4 linked regions of the Homo sapiens genome follow. The protein of the gene in region 1 purifies or fractionates together with the protein of each later gene. This does not show direct contact. Each region holds a gene or a part of one and is shown in the gene's direction. Other genes may lie near its edges.

What was found. The genes of interacting proteins can lie anywhere in the genome.
Region 2: the proteins of SLC38A10 (region 1) and ACADSB purify together in Homo sapiens (affinity purification with mass spectrometry; one large-scale study listed by BioGRID and IntAct). This does not show direct contact.
Region 3: the proteins of SLC38A10 (region 1) and QRSL1 purify together in Homo sapiens (co-immunoprecipitation; one large-scale study listed by IntAct). This does not show direct contact.
Region 4: the proteins of SLC38A10 (region 1) and CLEC4C purify together in Homo sapiens (co-immunoprecipitation; one large-scale study listed by IntAct). This does not show direct contact.

The regions. Positions count from the first base shown.
Region 1 is NC_000017.11:81,246,486-81,251,339, reverse strand, and holds part of SLC38A10 (solute carrier family 38 member 10), read left to right. Parts: coding exon of another isoform or gene 1-125; exon of another isoform or gene 126-470; intron 471-1,246; coding exon of another isoform or gene 1,247-1,270; intron 1,271-4,278; coding exon 4,279-4,455; intron 4,456-4,666; coding exon 4,667-4,854. UniProt on the Homo sapiens protein: Facilitates bidirectional transport of amino acids. May act as a glutamate sensor that regulates glutamate-glutamine cycle and mTOR signaling in the brain. The transport mechanism remains to be elucidated.
Region 2 is NC_000010.11:123,011,982-123,016,436, forward strand, and holds part of ACADSB (short/branched chain specific acyl-CoA dehydrogenase, mitochondrial isoform 1 precursor), read left to right. Parts: intron 1-4,455. UniProt on the Homo sapiens protein: Short and branched chain specific acyl-CoA dehydrogenase that catalyzes the removal of one hydrogen from C-2 and C-3 of the fatty acyl-CoA thioester, resulting in the formation of trans-2-enoyl-CoA.
Region 3 is NC_000006.12:106,660,554-106,665,008, forward strand, and holds part of QRSL1 (glutamyl-tRNA(Gln) amidotransferase subunit A, mitochondrial), read left to right. Parts: intron 1-2,426; coding exon 2,427-2,632; intron 2,633-4,455. UniProt on the Homo sapiens protein: Allows the formation of correctly charged Gln-tRNA(Gln) through the transamidation of misacylated Glu-tRNA(Gln) in the mitochondria. The reaction takes place in the presence of glutamine and ATP through an activated gamma-phospho-Glu-tRNA(Gln).
Region 4 is NC_000012.12:7,739,945-7,744,399, reverse strand, and holds part of CLEC4C (C-type lectin domain family 4 member C), read left to right. Parts: intron 1-2,868; coding exon 2,869-2,979; intron 2,980-4,455. UniProt on the Homo sapiens protein: Lectin-type cell surface receptor which may play a role in antigen capturing by dendritic cells. Specifically recognizes non-sialylated galactose-terminated biantennary glycans containing the trisaccharide epitope Gal(beta1-3/4)GlcNAc(beta1-2)Man.

The DNA.
Region 1 (4,854 bases):
TCTGCTCCCTTCCCATCAGCAGCTTGCTTTCTGGGAACCTTTTATCTGCCTTACTCCCCTTTAAACACCTGCGGCATCGTCACATGGCTTGTGATTACCGTTTTATCTCCCTTGCTCCCCTTTAAAACACCTGCGGCATTGTCACTTGGCTTGTGATTACCATTTCGTCTTTAAAGCAGGTTTGTTAACAGTTTTAACACTCGGAGTATTTAAAGCCAGCCAGGTGTGGGCGTGCCTGCACCCAGATGTGGAGGTTTATTTTAAGGCTGTGCCCCAAGGGGACCCAGTTTGGGGGTGGCTGTGCCCGCCCTGGTCCTAGCATAGCCCTGGCCCAGAGCACTGCTCCCACACCCTCGGGCCTCGGAGCTCGGCTGTGTTCATCTACAGGGATCTGTCACCTGTCCCTCCAGGAAAGCTCCTTACGCCTTTGCTCTCCTGAGAATAAAACTTGCTCTGAATCCTCCTCCAAACTTCTCGCCCCTTGGGTCTCAGCTGTTGGCTTTTTGCGACCCCTCCTTGTGGCCTCATGCAGTTGGGTAGCAGCAGCCCCGTCTGTGAGCCTGCTGGGGACAGGCTTCTGTGCCATGTCCTCTCCCAGGCTAGGGGTCCACCCGCCCTCTGAGGGTGTGTGGCTGGGCCCCCGCTCACCAAAAGTCACGTGCATTTGGTGGCAGTGTCCAAGCCTTCTCTCAAGATGGTCAACCCTGCCCCATGCGGGGTCCACGTGTGCCTCAGCATTGAGAGGGTCTGTTCCAGGGATCTGTGTGGGGGTCGCAGGGCACAGCCGCTCCAGCCTCCTGTGCCAAGCCCCTGGGAGCAGGTGTGGGAGCTCCGGGCCAGCCCTGGCACGGGCACCTCCCAGGATGTTCGTAAGACACACGCTTCCTGCCCGCGCATCTTGCCCTGTGGCCTCAGGACAGCCGGTCCGAGGGAGGGCAGGTGCAGCAGCCACGTCCCAGTCGCTGCGGCCTGGCTTCTCCAGGTGCAGCTCGCCCTCCTTGCACCTGCAGCGCGGAAGGCAGAGCCAAAAGGCGCCCCCTGGGCTCCCGGAGCTCTGAGCCACTTCAGGAGTTCGGGCATGTGGGGTTTTGTCTCCGGTTTTAGTCTGGCCATGTTTGTTGGTTCCAATTCCTATGCTCTGTTACCTGAACCTGTTTGATTCTTTTGATTTTCTTCTTTCTGAAAAAGACTTTTCACGGTTTCCTATTCTGCCTTTCTTCCGTATGCCTCTCAACGGGACGAGCAGCTGAAATTAAAAAGATAGTAGCAGGTACGAACCCAAAGGAGTGTGCTGAAGTCAAGAGCCTGTCTGGCGGGCCACAGACCTGAGCGCAGCCCCTCGGTGGCACACCTGCCCCAGGGACAGCCCTGCATGGGGACACGTGTCAGGCCCCAGACCTGCGCACGCACCCAGGCTCAGCCACAGCCCCTCAGGCAGGGTCCCGATGCCCACTCTGCTCCCTTGTGTTACAAATGCCGTGGTCCTTCTCAGCCCTGCTGTGGCCTTGCCTGTCATCAGAGGGCAGCTGGTCTCTGCAAGCGTCTGAGTGCAGGCTGCTTAGGGCACCAGCCAAGGGGGGACGCTGCCTGCACTGCTGCCTCATGGGCCACCTTGACAGATCTGCATGGGTCTCAACAGGTGGGTGGCTTCGTGCCTTCTGCAGCCCAGTCCCCGTGGTCTTGGTGGGCTCTGGCTGTAGGAACAGCCTGTCTCCTCCACGGTGCTTCACATGTGTCCCACGTGGCTTCTGGCTGGACGTGGCATGGCTCCTTCCCCCCTCCCCCTCTTTTTTCCTCCTCTTCCTCTTCCTTCCTCCCTCCTCTTCCCTCCTCCCTCCTTCTCCCTCCTCTTCTCTCCTCCCTCCTCTTCCCTCCTCCCTCCTCTTCCCTCCCTCCTTCTCCCTCCCTCCTTCTCCCTCCTCTTCCCTCCCTCCTTCATCCTCCTCTTCCCTCCCTCCTGCTCCTCTTCCCTCCCTCCTCCTCCTCTTCCCTCCTTCCTCCTCTTCCCTCCTTCCTCCTCTTCCCTCCTTCCTCCTCTTCCCTCCTTCCTCCTCTTCCCTCCTTCCTCCTCCTCCCTCCTCCTCTTCCCCCACCTTCCTTCTCCCTCCTCCTCTTTCTCCCTCCCTCCTCCCCCTCCCCCTCCTCCCTTCTGTCTCCTCTTTCCTCCTCTTCCCAGCACCAGGCCCAGGGCTAGTCCTTTGAGGAGCAAGTGAGGCCATGGTGCCTGCTCTTTCGGAACCCTGCCCTGGAGTATGGGGAGGTGTCACCAGCACATGGGATCTCGTCCTTGTACCATTGACATTCCGTGGTTGAGCCCCGCAGCACCCAGGGCGAGCACGTGGCCCACGGCCGAGGTGGCTGGTCTGCCACCTGCACTTCCTCCTGTGAAAGGAGGTGTGCGGGAGACCTGCTCTGCCCGTCATGGCCTTTCCCTGCAGGCAGGCGTCTGGCCCGGGGTGCTAGCAGGGAGCAGGGGCTGCTGCTTGAGGGCCGGCCCCATGGCCCTGATCTCCTTGGAGCCAGCCCTGTCCCCCACATCCAGGGGTCTGGGCGAGGCCCAGGGCTGCGTTCCTGGGAGAATGCTGACCCTGCACTTCTCTGGCTGGTCATGGTGTCACCACTGGGGAGGCTGGGCCGGCACGTCAGTCTATGCCTGGCATGCAGGGCCGTCCCTGAGATATTTGCTCTCACCACTCACAAAACATCCTTCTCGCTCCTGGATTGAACTTTTATGCCTCACAGCCCTAACCCATCATTTTTCAAAGCTTCCTATAATAATTTGAAAACATCTTGTAAAAATGACATAAGTCACAGCCGCTTGCGGCAAATAACTGGCCAGTGTTGAAGCGAGTCAGACCGGGTGCTCCTGCACCAAGTGTGTGCCAGCCGTAACCCGGGCAGGCCTGTCCTCTGGCCCTTGCTGCAGGCACCAGCTCTTAACACGGGGTGCACTGGGGCTCCCCATCACGCAGGACCTGCCCAGAATTTCCACAGTGGATGGTGTTCAGGAGCGGTGGTTAGGATGGCTGGCGGGGGCCTCACTGACGCTCCAGCTCCCATGCTCCCCTTAGAAGACAGCTTTTGGCCGGGTGCGGTGGCTCATGCCTGTAATCCCAGCACTTTGCGAGGCTGAGGTGTGCGAATCACGAGGTCAGGAGATCAAGACCATCCTGGCTAACACGGTGAAACCCCATCTCTACTAAAAATACAAAACATTAGCCGGGCGCGGTGGCGGGCGTCTGTAGTCCCAGCTACTCGGGAGGCTGAGGCAGAAGAATGGCGTGAACCCGGGAGGCGGAGCTTGCAGTGAGCTGAGATCGCGCCACTGCACTCCAGCCTGGGTGACAGAGTGAGACTCCCGTCTCAAAAAAAAAAAAAAAAAAAAAAAAGACAGCTTTTGTTTGTTTTTAAAATTCTCATCTCGGAGGAAACTTTCTAGAAGTACCAATATTCTTTTCAAAACATAGCTTACAGTTTTTCTTTTCTTTTTTTCTTTTTTGAGACAGGGTCTTGCTCTGTTGCCCAGGCTGGAGTGCAGTGGTGTGATCACGGCTCACTGCAGCCTCGACCTCCTGGGCTCAAATGATCCTCTGGCCTCTGCCCCCCGAGTAGCTGGGAGTACAGACGCCTCTCACCATACCCTGATCATTTTTATTTTTTTGTTTTTTTTGTTTTTGTGGAGATGGGGGTCTTGCTATGTTTCCCAGGCTGGTCTCTAACTCCTGGGCTCAAGCGATCTGCCTGCCTCCGCCTCCCAAATTGCTGGGATTACAGGCGTGAGCCGCCGTGCCCAGGCTTATTTTCTTACGTGCTTGTCCTAGAACAACTGAATGTGTAAAGTGGAAAAAACAAAAACAAAACCCCACCCAGCCCAGATAACCATCTCTGACATTCTGGCACATTCCTTTTGACTGTTGCTCTGGACACTCACTTCCATGGGCAACGAGCAGGCTTGCTGGGGTCCTGCCGGGTGCGCCTGGGGCACAGCCAGTGGGAGAACTGATGCGGCACAGTGGCTGGCTGTGCGGGAGAGGCCATCCCGGGTGGGCTTCCAGGGGCAGTCAGGGCGCAGCCTCTCCCGGGCCCTCAGGCCTGCGTGCATCACTGAGCTGTCCGGGCTTCACGGTCACAGTCATGATGGGTGTCACCAGTGGCCAGTGTTCGGGCACACTCCCTGCAGGTGACCTGTGCGTTGCCTTGCTGTGGGCCGCGCCGTCCCTGGCCCAGCACGGTGCATGAGCAGCCCGGGCACTCTGACTGTGTGCTTTCCAAACCCAGAAGCTGGCAGGGCGGAGATGCTGGACCACGCCGTCCTGCTTCAGGTGATCAAAGAACAGCAGGTGCAGCAAAAGCGCTTGCTGGACCAGCAGGAGAAGCTGCTGGCGGTGATCGAGGAGCAGCACAAGGAGATCCACCAGCAGAGGCAGGAGGACGAGGAGGATAAACCCAGGCAGGGTAGGCCGGGCTGGCGGATGGAGTGGGGTGGGGCCAGGCAGGGGGTCTCCTGCTGTCCTCATGCGGCTGGGTCTGAGGCTCGGTGGCCTCTAGACCTGAGCGTGAGTCTGGTTTTGGTTCCCAATGCTGTTGTTGCTGGTTCTTCTGAGCCCCTCCACTGGCAGCCTGTGTACAGTGCTGTGGCTAAATTGATGACCGACTTCATTTGCAGTGGAGGTGCATCAAGAGCCCGGGGCAGCGGTGCCCAGAGGCCAGGAGGCCCCTGAAGGCAAGGCCAGGGAGACGGTGGAGAATCTGCCTCCCCTGCCTTTGGACCCTGTCCTCAGAGCTCCTGGGGGCCGCCCTGCTCCATCCCAGGACCTTAACCAGCGCTCCCTGGAGCACTCTGAGGGGCCTGTG
Region 2 (4,455 bases), on another chromosome or scaffold:
TAGGACCACAGGCATGTGTCACTGCACCTGGCTAATTTTTAAAGTGTTTTGTAGAGATGAGGTCTCACTGTGTTGGCCAGGCTGGTCTGGAACTCCTGGCCTCAAGCGATCCTCCCACCTCACCCTCCAAAATGCTGGGATTACAGGCATGAGCCATTGCACCCAGCCAAGAGGTGATTCTTGACAAATATCCTTGACGTGAATTCTTGTTCAGTTAATTCTCTGGACATCTGCCAGACAGCAGCTGCCAAAATACATATAATTCTTGTTGTTTAACTTTTTGCTCTTCAACAAAACCAGAAGTATTTTTTCTGGACATATATTTGGCATCCAGGTAGAGAGAACACAAATGGTTTGAATGTGTCCCCCAAAATTCATGTGTTGGAAGCTTGATCCCCAGTGCGGAGGTTTTGAGTGGTGGGGCCTAATGGGAAGTGTTTGGGTCATAGTGTGTCCAGAATTGGTGGGTTCTTGGTCTCACTGACTTCAAGAATGAAGCCACGGACCCTCGCGGTGAGTGCTACAGTTCTTAAAGGCGGTGTGTCTGGAGTTTGTTCCTTCTGATGTTCGGATGTGTTCGGAGTTTCTTCCTTCTGGTGGGTTTGTGGTGTCACCGGCTCAGGAGTGAAGCTGCAGACCTTCACGGTGAGTGTTACAGCTCTTAAGGCGGCACATCTGGAGTTGTTCGCTCCTCCCGGTGGGCTTGTGGCCTCGCTGGCTTCAGGAGTGAAGCTGCAGACCTTCGCGGTGAGTGTTACAGCTCATAAAGGCAGTGTGGACTCAAAGATTGAGCAGCGGCAAGATTTATTGCAAAGAGCTAAAGAACAAAGCTTCCACAGTGTGGAAGGGGACCCGATTGGATTGCCACTGCTGGCTCGGCAGCCTGATTGGTCTGTTTTACAGACAGCTGATTGGATTGGTCTGTTTTGACAGGGTGCTGATTGGTGCATTTACAATCCCTGAGCTAGACACAAAAGTTCTCCACCTCCCCACTAGATTAGCTAGATACAGAGTGCTGATTGGTGTATTTACAAACCCTGAACTAGACACAGAGTGCGGATTGGTGCATTTACAAACCTTGAGCTTGATACAGAGTGCTGATTGGTGTATTTACAATCACTTAGCTAGACATAAAGATTCTTCAAGTCCCCACCAGATTAGCTAGATACAGAGTACCGATTGGTGCATCCACAAACCCTGAGCTTGATACAGAGTGCTGATTGGTGTATTTACAATCCCTTAGCTAGACATAAAGATTCTTCAAGTCACCACCAGATTAGCTAGATACAGAGTACCGATTGGTGCATCCACAAACCCTGAGCTAGACACAGGGTGCTGATTGGTGTGTTCACAAACCTTGAGCTAGACACTGAGTGCTGATTGGTGCACTCACAATCCCTTAGCTAGACACAAAGGTTCTCCAAGTCCCCACTAGACTCAGGAGCCCAGCTGGCCTCACCCAGTGGATCTTGCACCAGTGCCGCAGGTGGAGCTGCCTGCCAGTCTCGCGCCTCGTGCCTGCACTCCTCAGCCCTTGGGCGGTTGATGGGACTGGGTGCAGTGGAGCAGGGGGTGGCGCTCGTCGGGGAGGCTCAGGCCGTGCAGGAGCCCACTGGCGGTGGCGGGGAGACTCAGGCATGGTGGGCTGCAGGTCCCGGGGCCTGCCCCGCGGAGAGGCAGCTAAGGCCTGGCTAGAAATCGAGCGCGGCGCCGGTGGGCCAGCACTGCTGGGGGACCCGGCGCACCCTCCACAGCTGCTGGCCTGGGTGCTAAGCCCCTCACTGCCCGGGGCCGCAGGGCCTGCCGGCCGCTCCGAGTGCAGGGCCTGCCAAGCCCACGCCCACCCGGAACTCTAGCTGGCCCACAAGCGCCACGCAGCCCTGGTTCCCGCCCATGCCTCTCCCTCCACACCTCCCCGCAAGCCGAGGGAGCTGGCTCCAGCCTTGGCCAGCCTAGAGAAGGGCTCCCACGGTGCAGCGGTGGGCTGAAGGGCTCCTCAAGCGTGGCCAGAATGGGCGCCGAGGCCGAGGAGGCGAGGCACCGAGAGCAAGCGAGGGCTGCCAGCATGCTGTCACCTCTAAATAGGGGAACTGGCCTCGTAAATTATTAATGCTGTTTTTGAGAGAATGAGTTCCTCATTAAAGGACAACTTTGGCCTTCTCTTGCTCTCTCTTTCTCTCCCCTCATTTCTCACTCTCACCTTCTCTCACCCTCTTGCCTTTCTCTTTGGAATGACACATCTCTTAACCTGAGAACTTGGAACAGCTGACTCATAATAAATGTTCTTAAGTACTTAGAGCAGCTGACTCATTATAAATAATCAGTAAACATTAGCTATTTTTAAAATTAATTAATTAAGTTAGTTTTTTAGAGACAGGATCTTGTTCTGTCACCCAGGCTGGAGTGCAGTGATACAGATCATGGCTCACTGAAGCTTCAAAATCCTGGACTCAAGTGATCCTCCCGCCTTGGCCTCCCAAAGTGCTGGGATTGCAGGCATGAGCCACTGTGCCTGGACAACACTAGCTATTAATGTAGGCAGAACACATTACCAATAACTTTGATAGGATGTTTTAGGGTATCATTGCCTTACGCAAAGTACACAGGTAAGTTTTGGGGATCTGTAGGTTTACAACAGGGTTCTTGACATCAAAAAAAATTACATTTTTAATTGGGGAGGTAGGGTATCTGTTTTAAAAATGAATTTTAGAACAGTAGAAGATAGCATGTTGCTAATGCTAAATAAATAATATGGGCAGATATGCTTATAGGAGATGGGGCTTCAAGTGACCATTCAAAGGAGCAGTTTTAGGTAAAGCAGCAGAGGGGTGCGGATTCCAGGGCAAGGAAATGTGCACGCAAAGGTGTAGAGGTAGGAATATGCTCAGCTTGTTTAAGAAATAATATGCCACTATAGGTGATGTAACAGTTTTGCAGAAGGGTGGAATGGGTTCAGATGGTAACTGCCTAAGGGTTAAGTTTATCCTTGATCTCAAAGCAGTGAGGAGCTGATAGCTGCCAAGCAGTTTTGGCTTCTCCAATCTAGGAAGCTAGAAAGAATCACAGAGTGAAGCAAGCCTGGATTTCTTCTGCCAGTTCCTACATGGGTGTTGCCCAGACAGGGTTGCCCACAGTCCTGGAGAAGAGCCCTTTTATTTACCAAAACACAAGAATTTATAATGTTTACTACTCAACACAGAAATGGCAGTTACTTTGCACATGCAAATATATCTTTGTCTTCCGTTGATCTCTCTCTGGTGCTAGGAAGACTAAGTAACCATAAAGACACTCTCCCTGGCAACCATCAAAGAGTCTTTCTCCTTTCTCTCGGGATCCTCACACACTTGCCCTGTCTTGGGCCTACATTGTCGTTTTTGTTGTTGTTGTTCCTCATGCCACCTTGTCTAAGAAGGCCCACATTATCTTGACTCATTCTCTGTAAGGGCTAGACCAGGTTTTCTGTGTTTTGTAGGATGCTAAGCAGTATCCCTGGCCTCTACTCATAAGAGGCCAATAGCTTGCCTGAGCTATGACAACCCAAAATGTCTCCATCCATGGCCAAATGTCCCGTGGGGGCAAAATTACTGGACTGAGAACCACGGATGTAGACCTGTGTAACAGTGTACTCCATGAAGGAGGGGAAAGGTGGCCTTTCTCCTTATAACCTGGTAGGGAACTTTCTCTCTAAAACTATTTGCCATACTCAGTTTGTTGGCTATAGAAATTGATCTACAGTTTCAAAGATTTTTGTTGAAAGATTTCAATAGCAGCCATTGAGATTTTAAGGTGCTGTTTGCAAAGGAGTTTACAAGATAAAACAGTCAGCAGCTCACAAAAGGAACTCATCACGTGAGACTCTGAAGCCACATCCCACTTAGACCATTTCACAAGTCCACTTTTAGAGTAACAAGGCCCTCAATGAGGGTGATAGCACCGATGATCAGAAAGGAAGACATGTTAATAAAAGAAGACTTGAGAAGATGTGGGAATTATCTTGAAATGGAGGAATTAGATGGACTACACATTTTCTAAATGAAATAGCTTAGTGATAGGCAAAGATTGGGACATCTGGAGAAAAAGTAATTTAGGGTGACAGAAGAAAGGTAATTCTGTTTTAGACACGTTTTAGGTATTAATAAAACTTACAACTGAAAGTGTCTTAGAAGCTGGTCAGAAATGGGTCTAGAAAGTGGACCAGTGCTAAAGCTATGGTAAAAGGAAAACTTCATCTGAATTAAATTTAAAGGAGTTTAATTGAGCAGCAAATTGGGCAGCCCCCAGAACCACAGCAGATTTGGAGAGACTCCAGGGATGCCTTGTGGTCATAACAAATTTATAGACAAATGAAGGGAAGTGACAAATCGGAAGTGAGGTACACAGTGGCTGGATTGGTTACAGATTTGCAATTGTCTTATTTGAACACAGTTAGAACACTCAGCAGTCCATGAGTGGTTG
Region 3 (4,455 bases), on another chromosome or scaffold:
TATATTTTGTCCAGTTTTCTAGTTGTTTAAGAAGGCAGAGTGTCTTAGTTCTTTTTTTTTTTTTAATCCCCTATTCTGAGAAGCAGTCTTAGTTCATTTTTGCTGCTATAACAGAATGCCTGAGACTGGGTGATTTATAATGAACGGAGATTTACTGGCTCACAGTTCTGGAGGCTGGGTGGGAGGTCCAACATTGAGAAGCCAGCACCTGGTGAGGGCCTTCTTGCTATGTCCACACATGGCAGAAAGCAAGGGTGGGGAGAAAAAGAGGGAGAGAAAGGGAAAGCACATGGGGGGCTGAACTTTCCCTCTTAGAATGGCACCAATCCCACTCAAGAGTGGAGTTGTTATGGCCCAATCACCTCTTAAAGGCCCCATCTCTTAATACTGTTTCAGTGGCAGTTAAATTTCAGCATGAGTTTTGGAGGGGACAAGCATTCAAACCATAGCACAGGGTAAATCCCATCTCCATTACTCTATCTTGGATGGAAGCAGTTCTTCTTCTGAGCCATATTTAAAGTAGGAAGAAATTTAATAGAAAACAAGTATTTGTTTTGTTTTGTTTTGTTTTTTTTTGAGACGGAGTCTTGCTCTGTCGCCAGGCTGGAGTGCAGTGGCGCGATCTTGGCTCACTGCATCCTCCACCTCCTGGGTTCAAGAGATTCTCCTCCTGCCTCAGCCTCCCCAGTAGCTGGGACTACAGGCGCCCACCACCATGCCCGGCTAAATTTTTTTGTATTTTTAGTAGAGTCAGGATTTCACCATGTTGGTCAAGCTGGTCTCGAACTCCTGACCTTGTGATCCGACGCCTCGGCCTCCCAAAGTGCTGAGATTACAACATGAGCCACCAGGCCCAGCCAGTATTTGTTCTTTATAAAATTCAGGTTTTGGAATATGGTGTTTAAACCACTTAGGTGTTGTCAGTGTGTAAATTATATGTGATGCCTGCATTGGTCTCTCTGTAGACCTGGTGGTCAAATAAGAGTAAGGACCTATGATATTTCTGTACCACTCTTTTAGAGTAAAACATATTTCACGTTTTTATCGTATTTTATTTGGCCCTCAGTAAAACTGGAGCAGGTATATCCATTTTTACTGTTGTGGAAACTGTTGTGGAAAAGAATGGTTAGTTCTTTTTTTTTTTTTTTTTTTTTTTTTTTTTTTTTTTGAGACGGAGTTCCGCTCTTGTTTCCAGCTCTCCACGCTGGAGTGCAATGGAGCGATCCCAGCTCACTACAACCTCCGCCTCCCAGGTTCAAGCAATGCTCCTGCCTCAGCCTCCTGAGTAGCTGGGATTACAGGCATGAGCCACCACGCCCGGCTAATTTGGTATTTTTAGTAGAGATGGGGTTTCTCCATGTTGGTCAGGCTGGTCTTAAACTCTCAGCCGCAGGTGATCCACCCACCTCGGCCTCCCAAAGTGCTGGGATTACAGGCGTGAGCCACTGCGCCCGGCCTAGAACAGTTCTTGCTAGCCTCTCCTAACAGCTTCAGAAGAATCTAAAGGATTTTTTTTCCTTTTCTTTGTATCATTGATTTATGGTTACTCCTATGTCTGGCTTTTTCTTTAGTCTTTTTAGTAAAATAAGCATTCTTGAATTTCACATTTCTACCCCTGGGCTATACCTATCCGTAAAATACAAAATTCAAATACTGCATAGTCTACCGCTGTCTATCTTAGTAACCTTTAGAAAGCCATTTGTTGCTGTGTACTTTACTTTCCTCACCAATGAATATTCTGGTTTAATGATGGCCCTGGAGTTATTAATATTTTGAGATTATAAGTGTAGAATTGCATCTACTAGTGAATTCTGAATTCGGATTGATTAATTTATATATACAAACTTTTAGAGTGGCAACACAGTGGAAGAGAATTCATTTTTATGTTAAGAATCTTAATGGTGCCTCCTCATAAAAGCCAAGAATCCAGTGGTTCTTTTTTTTTTTTTTTCCCTAAACAATGCCTAAACTCTTTATTTAACCAACCAGTATTTCTGGTTTTCTTCCTGATGCAGGATTTTAAAACCTTAGAAGTCTATAAATACTGCATTCAGACTTTCCACATCAAGAGAAAGGGGCCCAGGGCAGAAGATGTCAGGCCCCAGGCTGTTTTGGGGTGGGAAAAGTGGCAAAGATTTCTCAACAGTCTGTTTCAGTTTTCTAACTTAATTGAAATGCCTTTAAGCTCTGCTTCATCCCCAAACTTTCCCCTATGGCGTCTATGATAGAAAAACACTCCTCTCTCATATACGCCCCACCACTGGGGAGCCAGGGGGAAGGGAATGGGCATTACACAGGCAAGCCAAACTTTTTATTCAGCCAGAAAATGGAAATCCAATGGTTCTTTATCAAGCCTAATGTAAGATAATTGATTAAAAGAAAAATACAAAAAATCCTTAAAAACATCACCTACTTTTTTCCCACAGAAACTATGAAAATTATTTTGTCAAAGCACAGAAAGTGAGACGCCTCATTGCTAATGACTTTGTAAATGCTTTTAACTCTGGAGTAGATGTCTTGCTAACTCCCACCACCTTGAGTGAGGCAGTACCATACTTGGAGTTCATCAAAGAGGACAACAGAACCCGAAGTGCCCAGGATGATATTTTTACACAAGCTGTAAATATGGCAGGTGAGGATTCCTCAGGAACATTCTGATTTTCTTCAAATTCTTAGGCAGGTACCCTGGTCTTCAACTTAAGATTCTAGCTAGATGGTTTCCGAAAAGCAAAAGTCTATCCTTTTGGAATGCTTAGGAGTGAGTGTGTGTGTACATGTATTAGTCTGTTCTCACACTGCTATAAAGAAATACCTGAGACTGGATAATTTAATTTAAAAAAGAGGTTTAATTGGCTCACAGTTCTGCGGGCTGTACAGGAAGCTGAGCAGCTTCCACTTCTGCGAATGCCTCAGGAAACTTAAATTCACAGTGGAAGGTGAAGGAGAAGTAGCCATGTCTTACATGGCCCAGCCCAAGCAAGAGAGAAAGGGGGAAGGTGCTACACACTTTTAAAACAACCAGGTCTTGTGATAACTCACTCACTATCACGAGAACAGCACCAAGGGGAATGGTGTTAAACCGTTTATGAGAAACCGTCCCCATGATCCAGTTGCCTTCCACTAGGCCCCACCTTCAACATTGGGGATTACAATTCAACATGAGATTTGTGTGGGGAGACAGATCCAAACCATATCCGTACACTTGCATGCACTCTCACCACACACACACAAACACAACACACTTAGTAGTTTTTTTTAACTTTTATTTTGAAAAATTTTAAACCCACAGAAAAGCTGAAAAAGTGGTATAATGAATGCTGATATGCCCTTCACCTGGATGTAATCTTGTTAACATTATATTTGCTTTGCCCTTCTCTTCCTCTTTCTACACACCCACACTCACCACACAAACAACTTTGTTTTTACCTGAATCATTTGAAAGTTTCAGATGTCATGACACTTCACCCCTAAATTCTTTTGTACAAATCTTATAAGGATAAATTTTCCTACAGAACCACAATTCCATTGTCATACCTAAGAAAACTAACATGATTGAAGAATAATTTAAATATGGTTTATATTCAAATTTTCTCAGTTCTACCAAAAGTGTCTTTTATAAGTTGTCTTTCCTCCTGATATATTACATTGGTTTATGGTATCTTTTTAAAATCTAGAACAATCACCCCACCTCTCTTTTTTCTTTAAAACCACATCAGGCTATGCTATAATTTTTGTTTCAATCATCAAACATAATGTAGAAAACTTAAGAGGAAAAGGAAAGTCTATTACATTTACCTATACTTTTGCTTACTGTGTTCATTCTTCCTTCCTGAAGTACCAAGATTCTTTATTTTGTCACTTCTGTTTAGAGAAATTTCTTTAGCCTTTCTTTTAGGGTAGGTCTGCTGATGAAAAATTATCATAGCTTTCCTTTTGAGAATGTGTTGATTTCCCTTTGATTTTTAAAGGTTATTTTTGCTGGATGTAGAACTCTGGTTCAACAGTTCTTATCTTTAGCACTTAAAAAATGTTAAGAGCCCAGTCCACTTGTGCTGTAAGATGTCCCATCCATAATCAGGATTTGTCAGATTGCTTCCTCATGATTGGGTTGAGTTAAACATTTTTGGTAGAAGTACTACATAATCTTCATGTCAGGAAACAGTTAATATCAGTTTGTCTCACTTTTGGAAACCAAGTTGATCACTTCGCTAAGGAAGTAACTGCTAGATGTTTCCTTATAAAAAGGTACATTTTTCCTTTTATCATTTTTTTAAGCAATTTCTGGAGTAATATTTTGAGACCATGTGAATATCCTATTTTCCAATTATCTTGAACCCAGTTTTAGCATTCATTGATCATCCTTGAAATATTAGCTAGAGAATTACAAAATTCTGGCTTTACTAAATCTGTCATTCCTTCTACATTTATTAGCTAGCAGTATTCTCTAAAGAAGAG
Region 4 (4,455 bases), on another chromosome or scaffold:
TATGTCAAGTAAAAATGTGTTGATGATACAGTCTTCAGTTTCTTTCTAGTTGTAAATACATCTCACAGTTTTCAATGTAACCCCAAGAGGCAGAATTATTACTAAAGTTAAACTTTGCTTTGCTTTTTATAACAAAGGGCAAGAGACAAAAGGGCTTAAAGATGTGATATGGTTGGGATAGTTGTCCCTTCCAAGTCTCATGTTGAAAATTTGAAATTTGGAAGGGACAACTATCACTTGAAATTTGAAATCCCCACTGTTGGAGGTGGGGCATGGCAGGAGGTTTTGAGTGATGCAGATGGATCCCTCATGAATGGCTTGGCACCCTCCTCGAAGGAATAAGTGAGTTCTTGCTCTGAGTTGGGGTGAGATCAGCCCCTCCCCCTCACTCTCTCTTGCACCCTCTCTTGCCATGTGATATGCCAGCTCCCGCTTTGCCTTCCACTATGACTGAAAGCTTCCTGAGGCCTCACCAGAAGGTGAGCAGATGCTGGCACCATACTTACTGTACAGTCTGCAGAACTGTGAGCCAGTAAAATGTCTTTTCTTTATAAATACCAAGTCTCAGGTATTCCTTTATAGCAATGCAAAAACGGACTAATACAAGATGGTTATTTAATTATCTGAGAGGAAAGAAGACATGCAAGAACTTAAAGACATAAATTCAGAGAAAATAGAAGAGTTTGACTAGGTTTAGTCTCAAAATCAGAATGATGAAATACATGAATAAAGAATTAAGGCCGGGCGTGGTGGCTCACTTTGGGAGGCCGAGGCGGACGGATCACGAGGTCAGGAGATCGAGACCATGGTGAAACCCTGTCTCTACTAAAAAAAAAATACAAAAAAAATTAGCCGGGCGCGGTGGCGGGCGCCTGTAGTGCCAGCTACTCAGGAGGCTGAGGCAGGAGAATGGCATGAACCCAGGAGGCGGAGCTTGCAGTGAGCCAAGATCGCGCCACTGCACTCCAGCCTGGGCGACAGAGCAAGACTCCATCTCAAAAAAAGAAAAAAAAAAAAAAAGAATTAAGTGAGGATAAGTGAAAAGTCAGATCTTGCTCTATGTGCCTGCCAGTGAACAAAAGAGACCGTTTTTAGCAAAAGATGTCTAAATGTCTCCAAAGGGTTAGGTTTTACCTTATATTTAATTTGACCCAAATGGTTTACTTACAGTTACAGCCATCAGAAAACTATGGAAAAACCAAAAGACCTGTGATATTTCAGGATTAATAGAATTAGATGCTGTTACCTAGTAAGTCAACAAATGCTTACTGAACACCTACTATGAGCAGGCCACTTTTCTAGGTGCTGGGTATATAGCGTGAATACAATGAAATTCCTTCACTAGACTGTATGTTATTGTAGGGGGAAATCAAGATATATACGTATGTAAACTTATAAACAAACAAGATAAATGAATATAAGATAGGGTTAAGAACATATTTTTTACTGGACCTGCACAGAAAGAAGCATGAGAAAAAAACAGTACGGCTTGAAATGGGATGGGCAAGAGAGAGATGTTGCAGACTTTGTAAGAGCATAACGTTTATTTATTTATTTATTTATTTATTTATTTATTTATTTATTTATTTTTGAGATGGAGTCTCGTTCTGTTGCCAGGCTGGAGTGCAGTGGTGCGATCTCGGCTCACTGCAACCTTCGCCTCCCAGGTCGAAGTGATTCTCCTGCCTCAGCCTCCTGAGTAGCTGGGATTAATAGACACGTGTCACCACGCCTGGCTAATTTTTGTATTTTTAGTAGAGATGGGGTTTCACCATGTCGGTCAGGCTGGTCTCAAACTCCTGACCTCATGATCCACCCACCTCGGCCTCCCAAAGTGCTGGGGATTACAAGCATGAGCCACTGTGCCCAGGCTTTTTTTTTTTTTTTTCGAGACAAAGTCTGGCTCTATTGCCCAGGCTAGAGTGCAATGGCACGGTCTCTGCTCACTGCAACCTCCACCTCCCAGGTTCAAGTGATTCTCCTGCCTCAGCCTCCTGTAGCTGGGATTACAGGCATGTGCCACCATGCCCACCTAATTTTTGTATTTTTAGTAGAAACAGGGTTTCACCATGTTGGCTGGGCTGGGCTTGAACTCCTGACCTCAGGTGATCCACCCGCCTTGGCCTCCCAAAGTACTGGGATTACAGGTGTGAGCCACCATGCCCAGCCGTAAAGTCATAAGATTCTTTATTTTTATTTATTTATTTATTTATTTTTTTGAGATGGAGTTGCACTCTTGTCACCCAGGCTGGAGTGCAATGGCACGATCTCGGCTCACTGCAACCTCTGTCTTCCAAGTTCAAGTGATTTTCCTGCCTCAGCCTCTTGAGTAACTGGAATTACAGGCGCCTGCCACCACCCTTGGCTAATTGTTTTTTTGAGACACAGTCTTGCTCTGTCGTCCAGGCTGGAGTGCAATGGCGCGGTCTCGGCTCACTGCAACCTCTGCTTCCTGGGTTCTAGCAATTCTCTTGCCTCAGCCTCCCAAGTAGCTCGGATTATAGGTGCCCGCCACCACACCCAGCTAATTTTTGTATTTTTAGTAGAGACGGGGTTTCACCATGTTGGTCAAACTCCTGACCTCAAGTGATCCAACCAGCCTCGGCCTCCCAAAGCGCTGGGATTACAGGTGTGAGCCACTGTGCCTGGCCACCTGGATAATTTTTATATTTTTGGTGGAGACGGGGTTTCACCATGTTAGCCAGGCTGGTCTCTAACTCCCGACCTCAAATGGTCCTCCCACCTCGGCCTCCTAAAGTGCTGAGATTACAGGCGTGAGTCACTGTGCCTGTCCACAGCATAAGATTGTATAGTACAACATAGATCCACTTAAAAGAATGAGAACTAACTCCGATTTCTCTTTCCCAGTGCCTCACAATTTTATGTATAGCAAAACTGTCAAGAGGCTGTCCAAGTTACGAGAGTATCAACAGTATCATCCAAGCCTGACCTGCGTCATGGAAGGAAAGGACATAGAAGGTACAACTCTGCAATGGGCAACAAGACTTCCCTTGCTATTAATCAAATTCCTAGTCTGATGGTTTATATCTTCAGCACTAAAATTATCAACTGCAGCCTGGTTTTTCCTACTGCATTCTTTAACTATCTACTTGGTATCTTAAATAGACACCTCAGGCTGGGCCCAATGGCTCACACCTGTAATCCCAACACTTTGGGAGGCCGAGGTGGGTGGATTACCTGAGGGTCTGGAGTTTGAGACCAGCCTGACCAACATGCGGAGAAACCGCATCTCTACTAAAAATGCAAAAAAAGTCCGGGCGCGGTGGCTCAAGCCTGTAATCCCAGCGCTTTGGGAGGCCGAGGCGGGCGGATCACGAGGTCAGGAGATCGAGACCACGGTGAAACCCTGTCCCTACTAAAAATACAAAAAATTAGCTGGGTGCAGTGGCAGGCGCCTGTAGTCCCAGCTACTCGGGAGGCTGAGGCAGGAGAATGGTGTAAACCCAGAAGGTGGAGCTTGCAGTGAGCCGAGATCGCGCCACTGCACTCCAGCCTGGGTGACAGAGCGAGACTCCGTCTCAAAAAAAAAAATAGACACCTCAAAATTAAAGTATCAAACAGGGGTCCTCAGAACTGTCTCACTTCCTCCTGCTCCCATCAATATTAAAGCCTAAAACTCAAGAATCATTCTTAGCAGTTTTTTTCTCTTTTTTCTTTCTTTTCTTTTTTTTCTTTTTTGAGACGGAGTCTCACTCTGTCGCCCAGGCTGGAGTGCAGTGGCGCGATCTCGGCTCACTGCAACCTCTGCCTCCCAGGTTCAAGCAGTTCTCCTGCCTCGGCCTCCCAAGTAACTGGGACTACAGGCACACGCTGCCAGGCCCGGCTAATTTTTTTGTATTTTAGTAGAGACGGGGTTTCACCTTGTTGTCCAGGCTGGTCGTGAACTCCTGAGCTCAGGCAATCCTCCCGCATCGGCCTCCCAAAGTGCTGGGATTACAGGCGTGAGCCACCGTGCCTGGCCAGCAGTTTTTCTTTGCTTATCATCTTCACCCCTGCATCCAATTAATCACTAAGTTCAACAGTAAATATATCCCTCTCCCTATACAGTTCTGGATTAACTGAAAAATAAATATACACAGGATTCAGATAAGAATAAAATTATGCCTGGCATAGTGGCTCACATCTGTAATCCCAGTGCTTTGGGAGGCTGAGGAGGGGTAATCACCTAAGCACGGGAGCTTGAAACCAGCCTGGGAAACAAGATGGGACCTCAACTCTACAAAATACTTAAAAATAAATCACCCAAGCGCAGCACGGTGGCTCATGCCTGTAATCCCAGCACTTTGGGAGGCCGACGCGGGTGGATCACCTGGGGTCAGGAGTTCGACACCAGCCTAACCAACATGGAGAAACCCTGTCTCTATTAAAAATACAAAATTACCCGGGCGTGGTGTCGCATGCCTGTAATCCCAGCAACTCGGGAGGCTGAGGCAG